Homo sapiens: one gene and its partners. The protein of the gene in region 1 purifies or fractionates together with the protein of each later gene. This does not show direct contact. Each region holds a gene or a part of one and is shown on either strand. Other genes may lie near its edges.

The links. Proteins that work in one complex are often made in the same cells at the same time.
Region 2: the proteins of ME1 (region 1) and USP19 purify together in Homo sapiens (affinity purification with western blotting; one study listed by BioGRID). This does not show direct contact.
Region 3: the proteins of ME1 (region 1) and NMI fractionate together in Homo sapiens (co-fractionation; one large-scale study listed by BioGRID). This does not show direct contact.
Region 4: the proteins of ME1 (region 1) and OTUD7B purify together in Homo sapiens (affinity purification with mass spectrometry, with the first as the bait; one study listed by BioGRID). This does not show direct contact.

Annotation. Positions count from the first base shown.
Region 1 is NC_000006.12:83,213,788-83,218,494, forward strand, and holds part of ME1 (NADP-dependent malic enzyme), read right to left. Parts: intron 2,810-4,707; coding exon 2,711-2,809; intron 1-2,710. UniProt on the Homo sapiens protein: Catalyzes the oxidative decarboxylation of (S)-malate in the presence of NADP(+) and divalent metal ions, and decarboxylation of oxaloacetate.
Region 2 is NC_000003.12:49,110,110-49,114,816, reverse strand, and holds part of USP19 (ubiquitin carboxyl-terminal hydrolase 19), read left to right. Parts: coding exon 1-54; intron 55-532; coding exon 533-643; intron 644-723; coding exon 724-825; intron 826-2,187; coding exon 2,188-2,328; intron 2,329-2,414; coding exon 2,415-2,533; intron 2,534-2,768; coding exon 2,769-2,906; intron 2,907-3,003; coding exon 3,004-3,317; intron 3,318-3,451; coding exon 3,452-3,562; intron 3,563-3,650; coding exon 3,651-3,867; intron 3,868-3,953; coding exon 3,954-4,106; intron 4,107-4,212; coding exon 4,213-4,373; intron 4,374-4,454; coding exon 4,455-4,633; intron 4,634-4,707. UniProt on the Homo sapiens protein: Deubiquitinating enzyme that regulates the degradation of various proteins by removing ubiquitin moieties, thereby preventing their proteasomal degradation. Stabilizes RNF123, which promotes CDKN1B degradation and contributes to cell proliferation.
Region 3 is NC_000002.12:151,271,955-151,276,661, forward strand, and holds part of NMI (N-myc-interactor), read right to left. Parts: intron 3,911-4,707; coding exon 3,804-3,910; intron 3,717-3,803; coding exon 3,530-3,716; intron 1-3,529. UniProt on the Homo sapiens protein: Acts as a signaling pathway regulator involved in innate immune system response.
Region 4 is NC_000001.11:149,965,013-149,969,719, forward strand, and holds part of OTUD7B (OTU domain-containing protein 7B), read right to left. Parts: intron 2,510-4,707; coding exon 2,282-2,509; intron 867-2,281; coding exon 765-866; intron 1-764. UniProt on the Homo sapiens protein: Negative regulator of the non-canonical NF-kappa-B pathway that acts by mediating deubiquitination of TRAF3, an inhibitor of the NF-kappa-B pathway, thereby acting as a negative regulator of B-cell responses.

The sequences.
Region 1 (4,707 bases):
AAGGTTATGAATACTGTGCTGTATTATGAAATGTCTATGAAAAAGCAGGAAACAATATGTATATTTCATAATTATAATAATGTTAGAAAATAAACAAACGAAAGACTCAAAACAAACACAGGAAAAAAAATAATACTTATATTAGAAAAATAGGATATTGGTTATTTTCCTTTTCTCTATTTGTTTTCCAAAGTGCCCATAATATGGTAGTATTACTTTTTAAACAGATTTATTGAGATATAATTCACACAAAATTCAAGCATTTTAAGTGTACAACTAAATTATTTTTGTAAATTTACTGAGCTGTGCAACAATATTACCACATTCAGTTTTAGAATATTTCCATCACCCCAAAAAGATCCCTCATGCCTACTTAAGATGGCTATGTTAATTTTATAATAAAACACATTGTTTCATTACTGACATAGACTATGTGGAAATTCATCTCCTCTTTCTGCTCCCAGTTATACCATAGAAATAATCCCTTCTCCCAATGAAATCTTCACTCTCTCTGTCCTGTCAATGCCAAACTCTCTGACAGAGTGGCTTATATTTTATTGCTTTCCTAATTCTCTGCCTTCTGAACCTCCTGTACATCTTGAAATTTCTTTTGTAAAAGTCTCTGATAACTTGTTAAGTACCAAATAAAAGTCTGCATCTGTTTTTCTCTCCAGGATTTGGCTGTGTTGGTCACAATTTCCACTCCCATTCTGAAATTGTCTCTTTCCTAATTATTGACATGCTGCTCAGTTTGGAGTCTCTTAAAATCCTGACCACTTCTCTTCTTAACTGGCATCTTTCTTCTGTCTTCTAGACAGAATAATAAACTATATTCTATTCTCATTTTTATTTCCTTTCTATACTTGCTTTCTTGGCAACCTCACCCACTCCTAGATATTCACCAGTTACCACATGCAGAAGATGCCCAGGTCTTTTATCTAGCCTCTCTTTAAGTTTCAGTCATTTCTATCTACTTGATAAAATGGTACATTTGAATGTGCCATTGATACCTCAAACTTGCAGTCCACTTACATGATCTCCCTCTCTGAAGTTGGTTCTTTGTTCTAGTTTCTCAATTTCTGTGTATGCACTCTGTATTCTTCCATTATTCTAGGTGTGATATCTGAATCTTTTGGCACTCCCCTGCTGTCCCCTGCTTTTTTTCCCCTCTAATCATAAGCTAACTCTTTTTCATTTAAATCTCCAAAATGAACTTAAAATGATAATATGCTATTCAGTATATTAATAGTTTAAACTACTTAAAAACTAGCAGATACATATTAGTAGAATATATGAACATACTTTTTCATAGATAACCAAGCAGATTATTATGTAAAGGTTTTTAGAGAATTACTTCTTTTTTTAAGAGACTGCCTTCAGTCAACGAGATAAATAATGATATGTGACTCTTAAATGGTGTTGTTTAGATAACTTGCTAATAGCTTAAGCTAGTGATTTTCAATCTGGAGCAATTTGGCCCCCAAGGGGATACTTGACAATGTCTGGAAACAGCTTTGGTTGATACAACTGAGCAGATGCTACTGACATCTAGTGGGCAGAGGCCAGGAATGCTGCTGAAGATTGTACAATGCCTGGGACAGCCGCATGATGGTTATTGACCCAAAATGTCCACAACGCTGAAGTAGAGAAACCCCAATTTAAACATATAACTACTGTCATGGCTAAACTGTGTTCCTCCCACCCCAAATTCAGTGTTGAAGCCCTAACCACTAGTACCTCAGAATGTGAGTGTATTTAGAAATAGGCCTTTAAGGAGATAATTAAGTTAAAATGAGACGGTTAGAATGGTCTATAATCCAATTTGATAGGTGTCCTTAAGAGAAGAGGAAATTTGGACACACAAGCGTGTACACACACAGAGAAAAGGCCATATGGGGACACAGAAAGAGGGCAGCCATCTGCCAGCCAAGGAGAGAGGCCTCAGAGGAAACCAAACCTGCAAACATCTTTATCTTAGACTTCTAGCTCCCAGAATTATGGGAAAATAGTTTTCTGTTGTTTAAGCCACACAGTCTGTGGCTTGAATATTTAAAAACAGTTACTACATAACCGTGGTATGTAGTTATCCCAGCCCAAGAAAACTAATACAATTACACTGCAAAAAAAGTCCACTTATCTTCCAGTTTAGTTACAGAAAATTTCTCTGCCTTTGGGTTCTTCTTGGCTAACTCCTTCAGTAGCTCATCTGCCACCCAAACAGCTTTCAAGTTCTTTGACCTCTTTATTTTGCCTTCCGCCCAGTATTATCAGTTGTGATCTGTCATTTATGATGCCACACATCATAGTGACATGGATATGGAAGGTGGTTCAAGGTCTAAATGTTACTCTAACATATCTGTAATATTTTGGTTAATTATCACTAATGTGATATAGAAAAGAACAACTTTAAAAAGGTGAAATGGGAGAAATCTGGCTGACAGGAAGCCCTAATGAATTATTTAAATTTTAGGAGAAAAAAAGAACGATAGAGAGGGAAATTAATTATTCGGCCCAATACTTCCATTCTTCTCTGAGAAGCAAATGTAGCTCCTAAGCTCTACAGTGTCAGTGTGCCTCATTTCTCTGACTTCTGACATAGTAAGTTGATACAGATATACATTTCAAGGAAGCAGATTTTTAATATTTAAAAATGCATATTTAGCAAGAAAAGGAAGGAAAAATAATGAAGCTTGAACAAGAGTGGTTTTACCTTTTCTGCAATTTTCAGAGAAACATCTCTAATGGTATTCAAAGGAGGATAAAGCCGACCCTCTTCCAAGTGTTTATCTGACACTTGCTGAGCTATAACCTTATGAAAAAAAGAAAGAAAAAAAGTGTTTATACTTCACACGATACAATGTGGTGGGTACGCCAATAACTAAGTGAACGGTTACATATAATGGTCTATACAAAAACCAGTGACATTAATATGATTACCTAATTTCATCCCCACTTCTATCAACAAAGAAATAAGCCCAGAGTGGTGTGGTGGTGGTTGAGATCACATAATTGGTGAAAAAGATGGGAATAGAATCTAGGTTTCCTTTTAGTCCACTTCCTTTTCTATTGTACCATGAAATGCTAGATACTTTCCAATTGATACATTAGGGGAACAAGGGAAAAGAAAAGAAAGAAAGAGGAAGATGATAGAGTAATGAAAATGGATCCTGAAAGCAGAGGAGGACAGCTATCCAAGGCTAAGCATGCCATTACTCCCAGCTCTGAGTCATATTCTTGTGCAGGAGGTAGAGCAAAAGGCTGAGAAAGCTAGTTCAGAGTCTCACTACAAATAGGATTTTAATTTTACACAGACTCTGGATTATCTAAATCACCTAATTAGCCTCAACATTTACTGTCCCCAAACCATTCCCTAGTTCCAAATCAAACAGTGTTAAATTTTGTATTGAACCCTAAGGCAGAGAGGGAGACTCAGTAACCCTGATGTTCTCTCCAGCTCTAAGACTTTGATTAAATTTCTAGATGGGGGCAAATCTAAATCAGCTTATACCTAGGCCTTTGTTCCATGAAAATGTGGATGCAGAGAGGGAGTAGGAAACCTTCCTCTTTTGTAACATTTTAAATAATCAAATACTTATTTTTCAGTATATCTTAATATCTTTTAGATTTTTAAATCATGAAATTATTTCCAAAATATTATTCTTTGCCATCAGCAAACATATATGCACTGAACAAGCATAACACTACGGAGAAGCTTAAGAAAAGTGTTATTGTCCTTGAGAGATGTATAATTTAGTAAGGTAACAGAGTACGGGAAGAAAAAGAGAACGCTGAAAGAGAAGACGGCTTAGGCTAATGGTGAAATGTGGGTGCTAAGAAATCCAGAGGAAGAGCAGTTCTGGAAGGCCTTATAGTGCACAGTGGCTTGAAAGGCAAACCTACAGGAAAGCCTGGAGTTAGACAAACAGAAAGTAGGTAGGCATTTCAGACAAAAAACAGAGTCAGACCAAAGGCAGAGTTGTGTGTGAGCTGGACTCAGCAGGCCCAAGTGTCCTGACCTGGGGGAGCAGAGGGTCTGGGTACAGAAATAAGGACTGGAGCATTATCAATGTCAAAAAAGGAGTTTGGAGTTAAATCCCGTCGGTGACTAAGGACTTCTGACCAGGGACATTTAGGCAGAGGTAAGATGGAAAGGAGAAGGAGGTAAAGTTACTAGTATAACTATTTGTTTGATTAGTATTGCTCTACATATTATACAAAATATTATAACATATAATTGTAGGGTGTTGACCATAATTTTATAATAAACTCATCATTTAACTCATTAATTTCTTGCCTTTGTAACAGGATGTTTGCCCTAGAATTGGTCATCAGGGTCCCAAACTTCAGGACAAAGATACGTTAACTATTCCACACTATCAGGAAGTCACCAAACAAGTGGGGCTTGCCATCTACCTCAGAAAGTAGAATCAGCCCTGCCAACCCCACAAACCACAGCCACCCCCTTCCAGAAGGCTGAGCTAGTGAGAGGCAGGGAAATTTGCTGGAACCATGGTTTGGCCTACTGGGTAATGTAGTGGCTTTTTCCTCCCCTCTTCTTGGTGCATGCTACTCCTTCTTAAAGGCTTATGGTGTCCTCAAGGAAAGACTGGGGGGCATTCTTTTCCCCTCCTCAGCGTGAGCAGTTATAGGTATGTGTACTTAAGCAGAGAAGAGAATGGGAAAGGGAGAGCCAGACAGACAGGGTGG
Region 2 (4,707 bases), on another chromosome or scaffold:
GACCTATTTCAGGGGCAGTACAAGTCGAAGCTGGTGTGCCCTGTGTGTGCCAAGGTGTGATGGGCTCCCCTGGAAAGAGACCCCCTAGTTCAGCTCAGCTATTCTGGTCACATTAGGTTCAGAGGCATGTGCATCTTAAGGTGCTACAGGGCAAGGTTTGGGCAAAGAAGCTGGCAGGGAGGCCTTAGGATTCTATTTGGGCTGAAGAGCCCACTCAGGGTAGGCTTCCTGACTGAGGGAAAAGTGATGTTAGAGCTCAAAGGTGTTGTAGCAGGGTTGTGGGCACATGGGGTGCAAGTGTGAGGCCAATTCGTAAAGTGGCTAAGCTGAGTAGGGCTTTGAGTGCCAGAAAGAAGGATTGTTATTTCCTGGTGGTCCTCCTGCCCTGTCTAGTGTCCTGAAGCCTGAGAGTTTGCTGGTTGGCTGTGGGGGCCCTGAGAGCCATCAGAAGCCCCGGAATGGGCTCTCTGAGCATGAGCATCTTATCTCCCACTCTGTGTGCAGCTACCCAGTGCCACCTCTACATCCACAGGTCTCCATCACTTTTGACCCGTTTCTTTATCTGCCGGTGCCCTTGCCACAAAAGCAAAAGGTTCTCCCTGTCTTTTATTTTGCCCGAGAGCCCCACAGCAAGCCCATCAAGGTGAGGAGTAAGCCCCTACCCTCTGGGCTGTTCTAGAGAACGTGGCCCACCTCCCTCACTGACTGCCCTTTTTGCCACAGTTCCTGGTGAGCGTCAGCAAGGAGAACTCCACTGCGAGCGAAGTATTGGACTCCCTCTCTCAGAGTGTTCATGTGAAGCCTGAGAACCTGCGTTTGGCGGAGGTATCTTTGTCCTTCCTTGGGCTATCACATGTGTGGATGTGTGTGTGTACTCACCACAGACGTGTGTACAGTCATTGGCATCTACAGACATACACATGGGCTGGGCACAGTGGCTCATGCCTGTAGTCCCAGCACTTTGTGAGGCCGAGGTGGGCAGATCACTTGAGCCCAGGAGTTTGGGACCAGCCTGGGCAACTTGGTGAAACACTGTCTCTACAAGAAATAAAATTAGCTGGGCATGGTGGTACGTGTTATAGTCCCAGCTACTTGGGAGGCTGAGGCAAGAGGCTCACTTGAGCCCGGGATGTGGAGGTTGCAGTGAGCAGAGATTGCACCACAGCACTCCAGCCTGGGTGACAGAGTGAGACTCTGTCTCAAAAATAAATAAATAAATAGATAAAAAAATAAAAATAGGGCCAGGCGTGGTGGCTCATGCCTGTAATCCCAGCTCTTTGGGAGGCCAAGGCTGATGGATCACAAGGTCAGGAGATCCAGACCACCCTGGCTTACATGGTGAAACCCCACCTCTACTAAAAATACAGGAAAAGTTAGCCGGGCGTGGTGGCACATGTCTGTAGTCCCAGCTGCTCAGGAGGCTGAGGCAGGAGAATCGCTTGAACCTGGGAGGCAGAGGTTGCAGTGAGCCGAGATCGCGCCACTGCACTCCAGCCTGGGTGACAGAGTGAGACTCTGTCTCAAAAATAAAATAAAATAAAATAAAAATAGACATACACATGAGTATGCCTGTGACTGTACAAAAACAGGCGATGTGCTGTTATTTTTTCTGTGCAACAGAAGTGCCCTCAGTTCCTAGCCATTATCAGGGTTTATTCCCCTTTGTGGTGGTGGATCCCAACTGCATTTCCCTTTTTAGACAAGGAGCTTGAGCTGCAGGACTATCCCTATGTTCGCTCTGCCTCTCCCTCTATCCTGCTGCTCTCTCCTTTTATCCCAGTTGTGTGTGCTAGCTCTCCCCAGGGGTTCCTAGCCTTTAGCCTGACAGTGTTGGTTTTCTTAGGGGTAAGAGTGGGGAGGAGGCTCTTTGAATGTGGACCCTCCATGATAATATGTTACAGTCTTATAAGGCTATGCTAGTTATAGCAGGGCAGAGTCCCTCAGTGTGGAGAGCTGGTGTGGTTGATATCTGCCTCACACCTGGTCTTTCAGGCCCTCTGATGCACCAGGCTCCTTATGGCATTGGGCACTGAGACAGGTGCCAGCAGAGGCATAAGCCTATTTGGGCCTACAGACCTCACCACTGCCCACATAGACCCAAGGCAGGGCCAAGCCTTCTTAAACTCTGGGGCAGGGCTAGGGAAAGGGCTTATCCTCACGTGGGATCTGTGTGTTCTCTGTCCCCAGGTAATTAAGAATCGTTTTCATCGTGTGTTCCTACCCTCCCACTCACTGGACACTGTGTCCCCATCTGATACGCTCCTCTGCTTTGAGCTGCTATCCTCAGAGTTGGCTAAGGAGCGGGTAGTGGTGCTAGAGGTGCAACAGGTGAGTGGGGGCCAACCTGATGGCACAGCGCCCTGGTGGGTGGGGCACTTCTTCCTGGTCTTGCTGAGCCAGACGACCCACCCTAGCGCCCCCAGGTGCCCAGCGTCCCCATCTCCAAGTGTGCAGCCTGCCAGCGGAAGCAACAGTCGGAGGATGAAAAGCTGAAGCGCTGTACCCGGTGCTACCGTGTGGGCTACTGCAACCAGTGAGGACCCCCATGGTCTCCCCTACCCTTTCTTTCCACCTTCCATGTGCCACCCTGCTCCTTCCCTTCACACCAAGGCACATATGCTTAAGCTTTCTACTTGCCACCCTACTTTACCAGGCTCTGGGGGAGGCAGGGCTGGCGTACCCAGTTCCCAGGGACTATGACTAGCCCCCAGTATGGAGTCATAGGAGATGGGGCTAAGGGCCTATCCTTGTCTTCCTCTTCCCGTCAGGCTCTGCCAGAAAACCCACTGGCCTGACCACAAGGGCCTCTGCCGACCTGAGAACATTGGCTACCCCTTCCTGGTCAGTGTACCTGCCTCACGCCTCACTTATGCCCGCCTCGCTCAGTTGCTAGAGGGCTATGCCCGGTAAGTGCCCAGTGGTTGGACTAGAGTGGTGTAGGTGGGGGCAGAGGTGCTAGATGGGCTGGTCAGGAGTCTTACTTGCGTTGTTCTCTGTTGCCAGGTACTCTGTGAGTGTATTCCAGCCACCCTTTCAGCCAGGCCGCATGGCCTTGGAGTCTCAGAGCCCTGGCTGCACCACACTGCTCTCCACAGGTTCCCTGGAGGCTGGGGACAGCGAGAGAGACCCCATTCAGCCACCTGAGCTCCAGCTGGTGACCCCTATGGCTGAGGGGGACACAGGGCTTCCCCGGGTGTGGGCAGCCCCTGACCGGGGTCCTGTGCCCAGCACCAGTGGAATTTCTTCTGAGATGCTGGCCAGTGGGCCCATTGAGGTTGGCTCCTTGCCAGCTGGCGAGAGGGTGTCCCGACCCGAAGGTAAGATCCAGTGAAAGGCTCTAGAAGCTGGGGAGGAGGATAAGGGAGGATGGAGGGGGCTGTTGTTTAGGGCCTGGTGGGCCTGGTGAGGCCCTGATGGGCAGGGAAGCTTTGATTATCATGTTCTCACACAGCTGCTGTGCCTGGGTACCAGCATCCAAGTGAAGCTATGAATGCCCACACACCCCAGTTCTTCATCTATAAAATTGATTCATCCAACCGAGAGCAGCGGCTAGAGGACAAAGGTGTCTGAGGCTGTGGGTGGGAGCCATGGGGTGGGTTGAGCTGGCTGTTCTCCACAGCTGCATGACCTCTCTCCCTGCGAATCTCCAGGAGACACCCCACTGGAGCTGGGTGACGACTGTAGCCTGGCTCTCGTCTGGCGGAACAATGAGCGCTTGCAGGAGTTTGTGTTGGTAGCCTCCAAGGAGCTGGAATGTGCTGAGGATCCAGGCTCTGCCGGTGAGGCTGCCCGGGCCGGCCACTTCACCCTGGACCAGTGCCTCAACCTCTTCACACGGCCTGAGGTGCTGGCACCCGAGGAGGCCTGGTGAGAACAGAGCAGCAAGTAGATAAGGGGGCAGGATGGAGAAGAGAGAGACTTGCTGGTCCTGACCCAATCTCTGTCCCCACCAGGTACTGCCCACAGTGCAAACAGCACCGTGAGGCCTCCAAGCAGCTGTTGCTATGGCGCCTGCCAAATGTTCTCATCGTGCAGCTCAAGCGCTTCTCCTTTCGTAGTTTTATCTGGCGTGACAAGATCAATGACTTGGTGGAGTTCCCTGTTAGGTAAGCAGTGGACCTTGGTAACTGTGGGTGGGGTGTGAGGACCAGGATGGGCATCCTGAGCGCCTGTTGCCTGTCTCACCCCTCCCTGACTGGACCTGACCTGCAGGAACCTGGACCTGAGCAAGTTCTGCATTGGTCAGAAAGAGGAGCAGCTGCCCAGCTACGATCTATATGCTGTCATCAACCACTATGGAGGCATGATTGGTGGCCACTACACTGCCTGTGCACGCCTGCCCAATGATCGTAGCAGTCAGCGCAGTGACGTGGGTGAGGGCACACACAGCCAGCAGGATAGGTGGTAGGGGTGGTGGTGCAGACTTTGTTCACACTCTTCCCACCCTGCTGTAGGCTGGCGCTTGTTTGATGACAGCACAGTGACAACGGTAGACGAGAGCCAGGTTGTGACGCGTTATGCCTATGTACTCTTCTACCGCCGGCGGAACTCTCCTGTGGAGAGGCCCCCCAGGGCAGGTCACTCTGAGCACCACCCAGACCTAGGCCCTGCAGCTGAGGCTGCTGCCAGCCAGGTGAGGCATGTGGGAGGCTTTACAGAATACTGGGGGACAGTTCACAGACTGGGGCCGGGTTGGGGGATATAGCT
Region 3 (4,707 bases), on another chromosome or scaffold:
TATTCACTGCAGTCAATCAATGCACAAAGGGTTGCAATGTCCTCAGACAGATCTACTTTGAGCTATAAAAAATACCATAGTCTTTTGCAGAAAGTAACCCACTCATCTAACAAGACTGGACTGTTTCCCAGTTTCTCAAAAGCTGTAAGTGAAAACTATGATTAGAATACTATATACATTTTTTTCAATATATTCAATAAACTGAAGTAATGATGTTAACCAAAGCAGGGAGGGGATTGAATGTCATCTAGAAAAACTGAAAGGAAATAAAAATTCATCAGTTTTCTACAACACAAAGAATAGTCTATTTTTTAGCAGTATTTTTTTCTCCTAGAGTGGTGAAAGGATGTGTGTCAAGACTGTAACATTTAACAAAAACAGTTCTTGGGAATATACAACCATGTTTTTTATGACTCTTCTCACTCATCTACCTTGGATCAGCAATATGGTACAATGATTAAGAGTGTAGGCCCTCATTGGCGAGAATATGGAGAAATTGAAACCCTGAGGCAATGCTGATAGAAATGTAAAATGGTACAGCCACTGTAGAAAACAGTATGACAGTTCCCCAAAATATTAAAATAGAACATGATATGATCCAGCAATTCAACTTCTGGGTATATACCCGAAACAACTGAAAGCAGGGACTCGGACAGATACTTGCTCGTTAATGCTCAGAGCAGTATTTTTCACAATAGGCAAAAGGTGGAAGCAACCCAAGCATCCACCAACAGATGAACAGATCAACAAAATGGATATATAAAATACACACACACACAGAGAATATTATTCAGCCTTTAAAAAGGATGAAATTCTGATACATACCACAACATGGATGGACCCTGATAACATTATGCTAACCAAAATAAGACAGACAGGAAAAGGACAAATATTGTATAATTCCACTTGAATGAGGTACCTAGAATAGGCAAATTCATAGAGACAGAAAGTAGAATGATGGTTACCAGGGGCTGGAAGAAGAGGTAATGGAGAATTATTGTTAAATGGGTACAGAGTTTCAGTTTGGGGTGATTAAAAAGTTCTAGAGATGGATAGTGGTGATGGTTGTACAACATTGTGAATGTACTTAGTACCCTTGAATTGTACATTTAAAAATTGTTAAAATGGTAAATTTTATGTTATATATATTTTATCACAGTTAAAAAAAAAAAAAAGAGTACAGGTCCTGAGTCAAATAGACCAGCTTCAGTCCTAGCTCTGCTACTTATGAGCTATGTGGCCTTGGATATGTTGCTTGACTTCTTAAAGCCTCAGTTTCTTTTTCTGTAAAATAAGCATAATTACAGTACCTACCCTGTAGATTATTGTGATGAGTCAGTAAGACACAGTTTATGAAGTATCTGGCATATTTATCTCCAGAATACCTTCACATCCTTCAGTAGTTACCTGCTGGATAACCTATAACCTGCAGAAGTATTTTTCCCATCTGGCTAGATGTAACCTCTAGGAGAACATCCCCAGATGGCCCAAGGACACAGGTTCCAAAGCTAGTATTATCTCTCACAGTAGAGTTATAAATTGCATTCTAGTTTATTTTATTTTATTTATTTTATTTCGGTTTTTTTGAGACCGAGTCTCACTCTGTCACCCAGGCTGGAGTGCAGTGATGCAATCTCAGCTCCCTGCAACCTCCACCCCCCAGGTTCAAGCAATTCTCCTGCCTCAGCCTCCCAAGTAGTTGGGACTATAGGCGTGAGCCAGCACATCCGCTAATTTTTGTATTTTTGGTGGAGAAGGGGTCTCGCGATGTTGGCCAGGCTGGTCTTGAACTCCTGGCCTCAAGTGATCCACCCGCCTCCGCCTCCCAAAGTGCTGGGATTATAGGCATGAGCCACTGCGCCTGGCCAGATTTTTTAAAATCCAAGATATAGACAAACTAACACCAAACAGGCTAAATGAATATATGAATTTGGCAAATTAAAATCTGGATGCTTGACTATGGAAGTTTCCACCAAGTTATTGTTCATTTCCAAGACAACATATTACTGTAGCCCTCAAGACCCCTTCCTTTTATAGCTCTCCCTGACACATCCCACCAGGATGTCCTAAACATCATCCAAAAGCTCAGGTCAAAAATGCATATTGGGCCAGGAGCGGCGGCTCATGCTTGTAATCCCAGCACTTTGGGAAGCCAAGGCGGGCGTATCACTTGAAGTCAGGAGTTCGAGACCAACCTGACCAACATGGTGAAACCCCGTCTCTACCAAAAATACAAAAATTAGTCAGGCATGGTGGCATGCACTTGTAATTCCAGCTACTCGGGAGGCTGAGGTGGGAGAATTGCTTGAACCCGGGAAGCGGAGGTTGCAGTGAGCTGAGATAGTGCCACTGCACTCCAGCCCGGGCGACAGAGCAAGACTCTGTCTCACAAAAAAAAAAAAAAAAAAAAAAAAAAAAAGGATATTGACATGTTTTAATGTGCCCAGAGAAAAGCCTGGAAAGACACCCAAATAACCATAACTAACTAAATAGTAGGAGAAAGGGAAGTTTGAGGAAATGTCTCTTTTTGTTTTTTTTTGAGACGGAGTCTCACTCTGTCGCCCAAGCTGGAGTGCAGTGGCGTAGTCTCGGCTCACTGCAACCTCCACCTCCTGGGTTCAAGCTATTCTCCTGCCTGAGCCCCCCGAGTAGCTGGGATTACAGGCATGCGCCACCACACCTGGCTAATTTTTTTGTATTTTTAGTAGAGACGGGGTTTCACCATGTTAGTCAGGCTGGTCTCGAACTCCTCACCTCATGATCTGCCTGCCTCGGCCTCCCAAAGTGCTGGGATTACAGGCATGAGCCACCGGGCCCGGCCGAAATGTCTCATTTTTACTAAATGTTTGCTCTTCTGTATTATTTCACCTTCCTTAAAAAAGCATGTATTACTTTGTCATGAAAAAATCTAATCCATCAATTTTTTTTTTTAATTTTGTTTTTTGAGACAGGGTCTCACTCTGTCTCCCAGGCTGTAGTGCAGTGGTGCAATCACAGGTCACTGCAGCCTCAACCTCCTGGCCTCAAGTAATCCTCCCACCTCAGCCTCCTGAGTAGCTGGGACCACAGGCACGCACCACTATGCCTGGTGATCTCAGCTCACTGCAACCTCCACCTCCTGGGTTCAAGTGATTCTCCCTGCCTCAGCCTCCCAAGTAGCTGGGATTACAGGCACTTGCCACCATGCCTGGCTAATTTTTGTATTTTTAGTAGAGATGGGGTTTCGCCATGTTGGACAGGCTGGTCTTGAACTCCTGACCTCAAGTGATCCGCCTGCCTCCGCCTCCCAAAGTGCTGGGATTACAGGGGTGAGCCACTGCACCCTGCCTATTTGTAGCAATATTATCTTTCCTAGTACTGTCCCTGGAAATAATTTCCTACACTCTACTATTTTATAAGGTTTTTTAAAATCCCCAATTATCATGCTAATACATTCCAAATAAAAGAAGTAGAATAGGAATACTTTCAGAAACAACAGAACATGACTGAAATGGCAGAGTGTCTGTTAACCTTCTACACCCTTGAGTACCTCCAATCTCCACAAACGTGATGACTGCACTCCCGGACTGTCTGTCATAGTCCACGCGGTCCACCTCTCCGCCTCCATTTCGGGACTTTGAAAAGCTCAGCTCTAGTTTGTCTCTCATTTGATCTTCACGCAATGTGTCAGGAATTTCAGTAACATTGATTTTCATTTTAGAAACTTCTACATAAACCTGGAAAATGATTTGATGTTCAGAAATATGGATGAGAGAAGTGCTTGTGATGAACAGAAATCCAAAAAATTTTAATCATCCTGTTACCTGGAATCTGACTCCTGAATTTAATGGAACTGGCTTGGCCGTAACCTCCAGATTTACATCTTTTATCTGTACATGATGTTTACTCATGCTTACCACATTTTGAGCAACTGAAAAATAATTCAGGAAGGAAGTATTAATTTCCAATATTTTAAGAATTGTTATGCTTTTGGTTTAAGAACAAATTATCCTGAATATTTTTAATTTTCTTTAATATTAAAGGGTCTAATTTTAAAAATTTGGCGGGCGGTGATTCCAAGTGATAATGGTCTTGCTACCAAAGTAGAATATATAATTTGGGGGGTCAGGGGGAAGGAGGACCAGATCTCATTCTGTCACTGAAGCTGGAATGCAGTGATGTGATCATAGCTCACTGTAACCTCAAACTCCTGGGCTCAAGAGATCCTCCCACCTCAGCTTCCAGAATAGCTATGATTACAGGTGCATGCCACCACGCCTAGCTAATTTTTTTAACTTTTTGTAGAGACGAGCTCTCACTTTGTTACCCAGGCTGCTCTGGAACTCCTGGACTCAAGCAATCCTCCTGCATCGGACTCCCAGACAAAGTTCTGGTATTATCAGGATGAGCCACTGCTCTTGGTCCCAAAGTAGAATATATTAATGTCAAAGTATATCAGCAAAATCACAATGTAGAAGTTCTCAAGTTCTAGATTCTTCTCATAAGATGAATCTTTTCTCTTATCTCTTAAGAGATAAGCCTAACAATCTTCCAGAATTCATATATTACTTCAGCTCAGCCACATACCCTTCCTTCCACTATTAACAATTACCAGAGGATTCCCCTAGTACATTAATGCACAGCCAGAAAGTGTCCCATGTTCAGTAAGCTGGGAAAACTTTCATGGCTAAGTGTCATTTGTACAATTAGTCTTGATTTTACTTAACC
Region 4 (4,707 bases), on another chromosome or scaffold:
CTCCCTAGTAGCTGGGATTACAGGCATCTGCCACCATGCCCAGCTAATTTTTTTATTTTTAGTAGAGATGGGGTTTCACCGTGTTGGCCAGGCTGGTCTCAAACTCCTGGCCTCAAGTGATCTGCCCACCTTGGCCTCCCACAGTGTTGGAATTACAGGCGTGAGCCATTGAGCCCAGCCCTTACTTTAAATATTAAGCCTATTTACAGTGGGGCATGGTGGCTCCCACCTGTAATCCCAGCTACTTGGGAGGCTGAGGCAGGAGAATCGCTTGAACCCAGGGGTGGAGGTCACAGTGAGCTGAGATCACACCACTGTACTCCAGCCTGGGCAACAGAGTGAGACTCCGTCTCAAAAACTAAATAAATAAATAAAATAAAGTAAGTGTGTGTTACAAAGGACTGCTAAAAACATACCTTTTTCATACAACAAAAGAATAAATATTAAGTAGAATTGTACACATACACACATCTAGCTATACACTGCTGGCTTACTCCTACTCATTACTCCTGGGGTCAGCTTTCAAAGCCAGCCCAAGCTAATATCTGTGCTCTCTTCACTATCTCACTAGCAAAGGTAGGGCTCACTCCCATTTCCTCTTGTGCCAACATAAACACACAGACACACACGTAAGCATGCACAATCTCGCTCTGAACCATCATTTCCGCCTAAGATCAAGGTTATCTGGATCAAGTCCTACACATGAGATTTGACTCAACTGCTTCCTTTCTGCAGGTGAATGGAGGACTGCTTTCAAGACTCACCAAGGGAGGCTGCATGCAGGAGGCAGTTCCCATCTCCAGTAGTTGCCAAAGGAAGCAGCCTCTGAGAGGTGGGATCCACACTCACCCACCAGTTCAAACGCCCTGTAGAAACAAGATAGTGGAGGAAAAGGAGATTATCCATGAAGCCCTTCCACCTTCCTATTTCTGAAACAGACTCCAAAGCAGCCTCCTCTAGGAGGCCTACCCAGAATAAAACCATCACTTGATTACTCTTTATATCTTCCTCACTTATATCTAGTCAGTCAGAATCTTGTGAGCACAATTGGTTAGATCAGTGAGTAGGGTCAATTTTGTCCCAAAGGGACACTGGCAATGACTGAAGATATGTTTGCATGTCACAACTGGTAGCAGGATGCTACTGGTATCTAATGGGTAGAGGCCAGGGATGCTGCTAACCATGATATAATGCACAAGGCAGCTTGCAAAACAAAGAATTATCTAGACCAAAATGTCAATAGTGCCAAGGTTGAGAAACCCTGGGTTAAATGACGAGGCCAAGGACATAAGTTGAAACTGTTGACTGCTTGGACTGGCCCTGATTCCTTCCCTCCACTCAGGAGACCAGTATGTATCACAGCAACAAAGCTCAGCAAAAATCCATCATGAACAAAACAAAAACAACTCAAAGCATGTATTTAAGGTGTTTTATGAGTATCATCTGCATATATGACAGCATGTCATCACGTGTGGGGTGTGACTTTAAAGGAATGAGCAATAAGATAAAGTACATAAAATATCCAAGAAAATAAGTCTTAATTCCATGCAGTCATCCCACAATTGCCAACCCATTATTTACATGAGGAAAATATCTTATGAGTGATGCATAAGTTTTCTTGAACTACTGTGGAGCATAGTTTTTGAACTACTGAATGAAAAACTGGCTTATAAACTCCCCAGACCAGATAATTTACCAACTTAAAAAAAAATTACAAATAGATGTATATGGTTAATATAGAAGGTTACAAAATGAAAAATAAAAGCTTCCTTTCCATGCCCTCATCTAACTCCAGTTCTTATCCCACACAAGCATTTTAATGCCTGATTAGCTTTTCCAAAATTCCCAGCTGCCTCACCCTATGATAAGAATTAATTTTAACAATAATTTAAGATAAACACAATTACAAACGTAAATACATTTGGGGGGATAGGTTCACTACTGTGCATCATCTACAGCATTGGTCATTTCTGTTCACAAGGGTGTTCCAGGGCCAATTATAATTAGTTGTATTTTTTTCATGTATTGATTTCGAGGTATTGATTCCTAGGCCTTTTCACATGTGTATCTGGTTTCTCTTCCATCAACCAGGAAATTCCCAGAGTAAAGTATCTAATCTGTATCCATTCTTTGACAGCACAAGTTTATCCCACTGACTCCTGACTTTGCAATCAGATAACACACTTAAACTGGAAGCTAGCGATCAAGTCCAGCCCCTCCACAAGGCTGCCTGTAGGTGGAGAGTAGAGGGAAGAGTGTGGGAGAGGAAGCACTCACTGACCTGCCTGTTCCAAGGCAACCAGCATGGACTGCTCAATGAGGTCTCTCTCTATGAAGCTGCGGAAGTCTTCATTGTATACAGTGAGATCTGGAAGCTGGAAGGCACAGATGGGCATTTCCAGGGGGTGCTCATTGCTCCCCCCACCCCCACCATTGGAGGAGACATGGGACCGGGCCAGGGAAACAATGCTGGAGCTGGCGTGGGAGATGCCCCTAGACAGGCGTTTTTCTGCAATGAGAAATGGAGTCACCTTAGAACATACACAGCCCACTTGGAGAACTCTACACTGATGTGGTGATAGTTACCTCTCAACAGGGTTTACAGTCAGAGAAAAACTAAGTCTAACTGACTACTGAATTTCAGAACCCTTTTTCTGAAGCCAAATACAATTGGAGAAATAGAGACAGTATTTTTGTAGGCACTCACATTAGCACCAAATTATTCATTCCTCTTTCTGCCCTTGTTTGGAATTTGCCTGATCTTCCCCTCCCTCTGACTGTCTTCCTCCACTTCCATATTTCCCAGTGTGATAGGGACCCATTCATTTAGCAATTTGGTCATTGTTTGGTGGGAGGAGAGGGAATAAGGGAAGTGAGGTTTCACTAGACTAGAGTTAGTCAAATAACCTCTCTGGTAATTCTCAGGGTCTTGGGAAATACCTTTTCTAAAGGGTATTTTCATTCTAGAAAGATTATAAAAGAAATCCATTATAGAAAAGAAAATCCTTTGGGAGGCCAAGGCAGGTGGATCACCTGAGGTCAGGTGTTCAAGAGCAGCCTGACCAACGTGGTGAAACACTGTCTCTACTAAAAATACAAAAATTAGCCGGGCATGGTGGTGTGCCCCTATAATCCCAGCTACTCGGGAGGCTGAGGTGGGAGAATTGCTTGAACCTGGGAGGCGGAGGCTGCAGTGAGCCAAGATTGTGCCACTGCACTCCTGCCTGACAACAGAGCAAGACCCCGTTTCAAAAAAAAAAAAAAAAGACAATCAACAACAAATCTTACACATTTGGGAACTTTCTTCCTACATCAATAACATTAATTTATATTGCTTACTACAACTACTCTCAATACCCATATTTATCAGAAATTTATAGGGACAGTCAATTCTTAACAGTCTATAGAGAACAATAATGTAGATAGTACCCCACATCATTTCATTTGTTTTGAATACATGACACTTGTAATTCCCAAGCAGATATTCCACTGTGATTATAATTTGCTCAATGTAGTATTACAGTTCATTTGTATGGCTTCAATTATGTAATGATTTAATGATGATCCAAAGGGGGCAAAATTTCAAAAGCATGTTGGGCTGTTCTTAATACAACATTTGCCAGATATGATACACAAAATAAACTGAGTTGTCTAAAGTTATCTTATAGTGATGTTATTTTTCAAATATTTTTTAGTTTTGTTTGTTTTTGTTCTTTGAGACAGAGTCTCGCTCTGTCGCTCAGGCTGGAGTGCAGTGCTGCAGTCTCGGCTCACTGCAACCTCTGCCTCCCAGGTTCAAGGGATTCTCCTGCCTCAGCCTTCTGAGTAGCTAGGATTACAGGCACACGCCACCACACCCAGCTAATTTTTTTTTTTATTTTAGCAGAGACGGGGTTTCTCCACATTGGTCAGGCTGTTCTCCTCAAACTCCTGGCCTCAGGTGATCTGCCAGCCTTGGCCTCCCAAAGTGCTGGGATTACAGGCGTGAGCCACCACACCCACCTTAAAAATATTTTTTAGGTATTCGTAGGCTGAGCATGGTGGCTCACACCTGTAATCCCAAAACTTTGGGAAGCCAAGGTAGAAGGATCACTTGAGCCCAGGAATTCGAGACCACCTGGGCAACAGAGTGAGACCTAATTTCTACAAAGAATCAAAAATTTAGCTAGGTGAGGTGGTGCGTGCCCATGCTCCCAGCTACTTGGGAGGCTGAGGCAGTAGGATCCCTTGAGCCTAGGAGGTTTAGGCTGTAGTGAGCTGTGTTCCACCAGCCTCACTCCAGCCTTGGAGGACAGAGCAAGACCCTGCCTCAAAAACAGTACCATGTGCCTATGGTAAAAAATCAATATACCATCAAAAGGTATAAAATGATTTCACAAGGAAGTCTTCTTATCATTCAAAATTCCTGATCCCTTCCCCAGAGGCAAACTTTTGTATCCTTCTAGAAATTTTTATGCATACAGAAGCATATACAGGTTTTGGCCGGGCACGATGGCTCACGCCTGTAATCCCAACACTTTGGGAGGCCGAGGCAGGTGGATCACAAGGTCAGGAGATCGACACCATCCTGGCTAATACGGTGAAACCCCATCTCCACTAAAAATGCATGTACAGCTTTTAAAATCATCTTTTAAAACGCAAATGAGAGTATACTACATACATTGCATTGTGTCTTACCTTTTTGAAAAAAATTATATATTTTTTTAT